Linked DNA regions of Homo sapiens. The protein of the gene in region 1 interacts with the protein of each later gene in a biochemical or structural test. Each region holds a gene or a part of one and is shown in the gene's direction. Other genes may lie near its edges.

Region 1 (3,754 bases):
TAACCAAAATTCAGTAGCTGGATTGAATTCTCAGAAGTCTGCAAGGTTGCACAATAGGATAGTCATCCTTTGAAATGAATGAATTCCACAGAACTGCCACTCTTGTATGAAATATGCACAATCACCCAGCAGTGAATATTTTCATTCCTTTTGCTCAACTTCAGTACAGCATTTTAATATTTTTCAAAGGCTGGAGATGCTTTTAAGTATAGGGACTCTGCAGCCAAATTCTGCAGGGGCATCTGGCTGTTACTTCTTTGTTTAAAATCAGAGGTGACTCTGGCCTCTGCTCATTCTTTCTCCAGATTTTGCAAGACATATTTCACTTTGGGCTGACCTTACAGTGTCATTTGCAGACTTGTGCTCTGGCCTCAAATTGGACTTAATCTGCTGGTTTAGTTATTGCAAAGATTGAATCAGCCCCTCACCAATTACAGTGTGGCTGCAAGTGGATTTAAGTGCAGTATCATTGTTCTGCTTGACAGAGGTCATCCCTTTAAGACACAGCAGCTTCTGTTTTCCTGACTTTTTACCATAGATGATGTGGGTGACTTCTTATGCAAGCATAGTTGTGTATCTCCGAAGAAGCTCCAAGAGAGTTTTATAAGGCTGCTTCTCTGAACTGCCCTGAGAGATATATATGCTGTGGTCTCTTAGCTTACTTTAAGGCTCAGTGAAATCTACACATTGAATCTAGTTCCTTTTGATGTCTTAGAATAGAAGGCTCATGTTTCCTAGCTGTGTGTTGACCAATGAAAAAATTCTTTGCAAAAACAGATCAAATGTAAAGATGCTATTTATTATAGGGGACTGCGTAGAGAATTCCATAGGACACTATTTGGAGGAATAGAGATTCCAGAGTCATTTAAACAAAATAATCAAGGCTGCTTATTGTCTCCATGTACCTACTTTTGCTAGATGAATGAAGGCACTTTAAGGAGTCTTTAACTGTATGTTTTCATGGAGATACTGGTAGCTACTGTGCAGATTGACATAATTACTATCTTGGCAGAATGGGTACTTTTTTTTTGCAAATGTTATTAATGATGGCCTAATCTTACTGCCTTATCTGAACTGTCACATTACATAACCAAGGCTCCAAATTAAACATGTAAAGAAGCTGGCACCAGGCTTGTGGCTTGATTTTGCACGTGAAGATGATGGTTTAAATACCAGTCCAAGCCCCTAAATGCCCCTGATAGCTACTAATAAAAGTTTGGCTCCTTCTCGTGTGGGAAAACATAAGTACTTATTTTATTTTTCATACTCTGTCCACCATCTTGGAATTTGGTCTCTTCTACAAAAGGTATGGCTACATTTGAAGCTGCCACAAATATGTTAGTTTTTTAAAAATTCTGTCTCCAGTTTTTCAGCAGTGGAGCAGGATAATAGGCTAAAAGTGCTGAGCAAAAGTCACCTTTTATGTTTTTGTAAATGCACCTGGAAACAGGAAGTAGATTATAAATAATCATAACTCTGTGAGCACTGGCGACAGAAGCTGCAACCTGGTATTTCAGAACACAGCATCTTCATTATATGATGCAGTGTTTACGTTAGCCACTGCAAAGCTTATTACTCCTCGAAATTTTTGAGGCTTCCCTGGGTTTCTGTTGCCTGCATTCAGGGTGTTAAAGTTGATTCAAGCATTTCAGATTCCTAATTGAACAGGCCTCTTAGGTCACTGCTCTTGGGTCATCATTTGACAGTATCAGTGTGTGATTTGTGGTCTCTGGAGATGTTGAAGTATTCTTTCTTAAATTCTAGGTTATAGTGGCAGCAGCTGTGCCGCTTTTCTGAGATGCCTCGTTATGGTTCATTCACAACATTACTGTTAACTTTGCTTCCTTGGCCGTGTTAGCAGCAACTCTTGAGGTTTTACATCCCTGTTTGACTCACAGATTTTGTTTCAATTTTTTGAAGCTTAGAGCAACTTAACTCATGGATTCTTAAATAGCAGTCTGTGGCTTTGGATGGGCTTCAGAAAGCCCGTGAATCCCCTTAAAATGAATCCGGTATCGTGCATGCATTTGAGAACGGGCATTGTCAGCTAAGAGGGAACAGAGCTTTTATCAGATTTTATGTGACATCAGGACCCAAAAAAGGTTAACACTGTTCTAAATCAACATCTTCATTTTATGAAGAGGAGGGAGGTCCAGTAACCCTAAGCTCTTTATCCATCTCATCCAGATTATTGGTGGCAGGGCCAGGATTAGTGCCTCAAGGTTGCCGACTTCCAGTCCAGCATATTTCCTACCACACTGCAAAATGATGATGAAAGAAAGTATGTCTAACTAGTGAAAAAGCGATTTAGGCAGCTAAATCATTGTGAACTGATAGCATGCAGTGTATTGTTAGGGCGTTCCTGCCTCAGATGCTTTCCAGCGAAGCTCACCCACGCATGCCCCTGGCTCACGCACACACTGAATAGATTCATCTTACCCACATCCCAGGCAGATAGAAAAACCACATTCCAGACCCAGGGACTTGTATTCCTGATTTAGTGGAGGTCTTGAAATGAATGAAAGCGCCTTTTATATAACCTCAAAAATTCTCTGTAGTGTTAATTGCTGTTAGGTCTGTTTCAAAAGGTATTGATGGTGCCTTTTCTTTTTAAGCAACCGCACAATGAGTTGGCATTTTGCAGGCTAATTTTGATTCATAGAAAATCATTGCATAACTGGTTCATTGAGTTAGATATCTGTGGAGGGAAGAGAGGAAGAAGCAAGGCTGCTTCCCTATTCAGAAGGATTCTATCATATTCCTACCTCTGCCACTGGGGGCTTGAGTTTTGGCTCATTCTCTGAGCCTCAGTTTCCATATCTGTAAAATGAAAGTATTGAATTAGAGACCACTGGGCAAAAGCTAGCTGTTTATTCTCTTAGTTGCTCATGTGTTGTATAATGCCTGTTTATGTGCATTTCTTTTTTTTTATTTTTGAAGGCAAATAAAGTGTTGTTGATGTCATTGAGGTGGATCACTTTCTCTCCAATTTTGCCTTAGTTCTATAAACACGCAATTGGGCTAGAGACAAAAGTAATGAAAATTATTATTTCTGTACTGCATTACGTTTTGCAAAGCACTATCACCTTCATTTTCTCATATAATCCTCCTAACACTGTGAGTCAAGTATCAGTTTCCCATGTTGTACGTAAAGATTTGGAGGCTCCGAGAGGTTAAGTGACTTGTTTAGTGCCACACAGCTGGTAGGAGGCAGGGCCAATGTGGTCTGGGTCCAAGTTCAGCATATTTTCTGTCATCTCAAAAGCCCATACCTGTGGGAGGTGCAGCATTATGTGTTTTGGTTGTACAAGAGGCACCTCTGACTTTGGTCTTACTGTTAATCCTGTCGTAGGTGTTTGATATCAGCTGCTACCAGGAATCCCTGGCACCGTGCTTTTGCCTGTCTGCTCATAGTAACATCAACCAAATCACTGAAATTATCCTGGGTGAGACCAAAGCCTATGTGTTCTTTGAGCGAAGCTATGGGGACATGCATTCCTTCGTCCGCACCTGCAAGAAGCTGAGAGAGGAGGAGGCAGCCAGACTGTTCTACCAGATTGCCTCGGCAGTGGCCCACTGCCATGACGGGGGGCTGGTGCTGCGGGACCTCAAGCTGCGGAAATTCATCTTTAAGGACGAAGAGAGGTAGGTCTCATCCTGTCCAGACCTGGGTACTGTGATGGACTGCTCCTAACAACAGCTTCCTAGAAAAGTCTTGAATGGACGTTTTTTTGCCGTCTGTGGTCCAGATGAG
Region 2 (3,754 bases), on another chromosome or scaffold:
ACTGCCCTCCAGCCTGTTCAACAGAGCAAGAGTCTGTCTCAAAAACAAAAAAACAAAAATCATAGCATTCAACTACCTGGAAATTACCCTCTCCCTTCAGTTGATGTTAGGCTCTACTTAGACCAATTTAGTCAGTGTGCTTAAGAAAGATGTGGAGAGGGCAGGACACGGTGCCTCACACCTGGGATCCCTGCATTTTGGGAAGCCAAGGTAGGCAGATCACTTGAGTTCAGGAGTTCAAGGAGGCATGAGAACTGGGCAACATGGTGAAACTTCGTCTCTACAAAAATTGCAAAAATTAGCCAGGTGTAGTGGCGCATGCCTGTAGTCCCAGCTACTTAGGAGGCTGAGGTGAGAGGATCACTTCAGCCCAGAGGGTTGAGGCTGCATTGACCCAGTATCACACCACTGCACTCCAGCCTAGGTGACAGAGTGAGACACTGTACCAAAAAAAAAAAAAAAAAAAAAGATGTGGCAAAATTAACATGCACAGTGAGAAGAAGGGTAACACTGATTACTGATTAAGGCAGTACTCCTCTGGGTTTTTGTCTTAAGTGGATGTGATAGTGGCATCACTTACACGACCAGCTGAAGGAAGAATAGATTTGGAGGAGAAATTGAAAGTTCTGTTTTGGATCTGTGTTTTGCATTCTGACTGGAAATGACAAATACAAGTCTACAGCTCATTGGAGGTGTCAGAACTAAAACTGTATAACTGTATTAGAATTGTTTATTTGGCTGTGTGTCTTACCTAGACAGACCTTGAGGACAGACACTGTTGTCTTTGTAACCTCAGTGCTCTGAAGTGTATCCTCAAATACTTGTGAAATGAGTAAGTAAAGGCAAAAGTAAAAATGAAGTCACTGGCTGGGTGCAGTGGCTCACGCCTGTAATCCCAGCACTTTGGGAGGCTGAGGCGGGCGGATCACGAGGTCAGGAGATCGAGACCATCCTGGCTAACATGGTGAAACCCCATCTCAACTAAAAATACAAAAAATTAGCCGGGCGTGGTGGTGGGCGCCTGTAGTCCCAGCTACTCAGGAGGCTGAGGAAGAAGAATGGCGTGAACCTGGGAGGTGGAGCTTGCAGTGAGCTGAGATCGTGCCGCTGTACTCCAGCCTGGGCAACAGAGCGAGACTCTGTCTCAAAAAAAAAAAGAATGAAGTCACTTAGGCAAAATGTAGAAGATACATACTCTATGCTTTCACTGAAAGTCTAAGCACCTGAATGTGACTTACAAGTAGGGTGACCATAATTTCTGATTTGCTGAGAATAGCCTGGTTTATATCTGTTGTCCCTACCTAAGTATTAATATTGCCTGGTTTCACTCTCAGTAAAGTCTCCATTTGTACAATAAATTTATATTGTCATTCTTTTTAGAAGGCCCTTCCAGATCTAGCATCTTCCTATATCTTTATCATCACTGCCCTATCTTAGACTCCATTTGCCAGCCAGGTGGACATACCTTCATTTCTCATATGCACTCTTAACTTCAAGGTTTTTTTTGCCAAGGTACTGCCTACCTCACTTAGACATCACTTCCTTAGGAACACTTCTCCTGACCCCCCAATGGCTGAGTTAAGTCACCCTCTTACATGTTCCCAGTACACCTTGTATTTAACCTGTCATAGCAAAGATGACTAAGTGCCTTGTTCCCTCACTAAATATCTCTGTAAAGGAACCCAAAAAAACACCTTTTGTCCTCTTTAAGCCATAAATTTATATTAATAATATCCAAATCCATGTTGAACCAGTATTTTTGAAGATTGACCTTCAGGATAAACTAATAGCACAATCTTCATGCCCTTTCATTCATAAGTAACTGAAAAGGTTGACTTTTGTACCAGGAACCCAACGAAGAAAACTTGTATCTTGTCAGGGTTGGTAACCTGGCTGCCATTGACTGAGACCAAAATATCCCAACAGTTTGTCCTCAGCTGCTAAGCTGCTGTGGTTAGAATCAAACGTAGAGTTTCTGGCCTGGTGCGGTGGCTCATGCCTGTAATCCCAACACTTTGACAGTCCTAGGTGGGAAGATTGCTTGGGCTCAGGAGTTCGAGACTAAACTGGGTGACTTAGTGAGAGTTCAACTCTACAAAAAAATCAAAAAATTAGCTGGGCATGATAGCACACGCCTGTGGTCCCAGCTACTTGGGAGGCTGAGGTAGGAGAATCACTTGAGCTCAGACAGTTGAGGCTGTAGTGACCGTGATTGTGCCACTTTACTCCAGCCTGGGCAACAGAGTGAGACCTCGTCTGGAAAAAAAAAAAAAAAGGTAAAGAGACAACCTACGGAATGGGAGAAAATATTCACGACCCCTACATCAGATAAGTGGACAAGGGCCTGAAAAGACATTGCTCAAAAGAAGACATGCAAGTAGCATGGGAGGCCGAGGCGGGTGGATCACCTGAGGTCAGGAGTTCGAGACCAGCCGGGCCAACCTGGTGAAACCCTGTCTCTACTAAAAAAACAAAAATTAGCTGGGCGTGGTGGCGGGCGCTTGTATTCCCAGCTACTCAGGAGGCTGAGGCAGGAGAATCACTTGAACCCAGGAGGCGGAGGTTGCAGTGAGCCAAGATCACACCATTGCCCTCCAGCCTGGGCAACAGCAAGACTCTGTCTCAAAAAAAAAAAAAAAAGAAAAACAAAAGAAAAAGACATGCAAATAGCTAACTGGTATGTGAAAAAAATGTTCAACATCACTAATCATCAGGGAAATGTGAATTAAAACTACCATGAGATATCACCTCACACCTGTCAGAATGATTATTATCAAAAAGCGAGATAAGCATTGGCAAGGATGTGGAGAAAAACCCTGTACACTGTCAGTGGGAATGTAAATTAGTACAGCCATTTTGGAAAATAGTATGGAGGTTCCTTAAAAATTTTTGAATGGAACTACCATATGATCCAATAATCCACTTCTGGGTATATATCCAAAGGAAATGATATCTGCATGTCAAGGTATCTGTACTCCCATATCCATTGCAGCATTATTCACCATAGCCAAGACATGGAAACAGCCTACATGTATGCCAATGGATGAATGAATAAAGAAAATGTGAGATATAGATACACACACACACACACACACAGACACACACACAATGGAATACTGTTCAGCCTTAAAAAATAAGGAAATCCTGTCATTTGCAGCAACATAGATGGACCTGGAGGACATTATGCTAAGTGAAATAAGCCAGGCACAGAAAAACAAATACTGCTTAATCTCACTTATGTGTGGCATCTAAAAAAGTCAAGCTTGTAGAAGTAGCAGAATGGTGGTTACCAGGGGATGAGAGAGAAAGAATTGGAAGATTTTGGCCAAAGGATACAAAATTTCAGTTAGACAGCAGGAATAAGTGCAGGAGATCTATTATACTATATGGTGACTATAGTTAAAAATATATACTTGAGGCCAGGCACTGTGGCTCACACCTGTAATCCCAGCACTTTGGGAGGCTGAGGCAGGTGGGTCATCTGAGGTCAGGGGTTTGAGACCAGCCTGGCCCACATGGTGAAACCCCATCTCTACTAAAAATACAAAAATTAGCCAGGCGTGGTGGTGCATGCCTGTAATCCCAACTACTCAGGAGGCTGAGGCATGAGAATCACTTGAACCCGGGAGGCAGAGGTTGCAGTGAGCCAAGATTGCATCACTGCACTCCAGCCTGGGCAACAGAGCAAGACCCTGTCTCAAAAACAAAAACAAACAAACAAACAAAAATATATATATGCTTGAAAATTGCTAAG

What was found. The genes of interacting proteins can lie anywhere in the genome.
Region 2: the proteins of TRIB2 (region 1) and ACACA form a complex in vitro, tested with the Homo sapiens proteins (one study listed by BioGRID).

The regions. Positions count from the first base shown.
Region 1 is NC_000002.12:12,719,908-12,723,661, forward strand, and holds part of TRIB2 (tribbles homolog 2), read left to right. Parts: intron 1-3,352; coding exon 3,353-3,645; intron 3,646-3,754.
Region 2 is NC_000017.11:37,400,083-37,403,836, reverse strand, and holds part of ACACA (acetyl-CoA carboxylase 1), read left to right. Parts: intron 1-3,754. UniProt on the Homo sapiens protein: Cytosolic enzyme that catalyzes the carboxylation of acetyl-CoA to malonyl-CoA, the first and rate-limiting step of de novo fatty acid biosynthesis.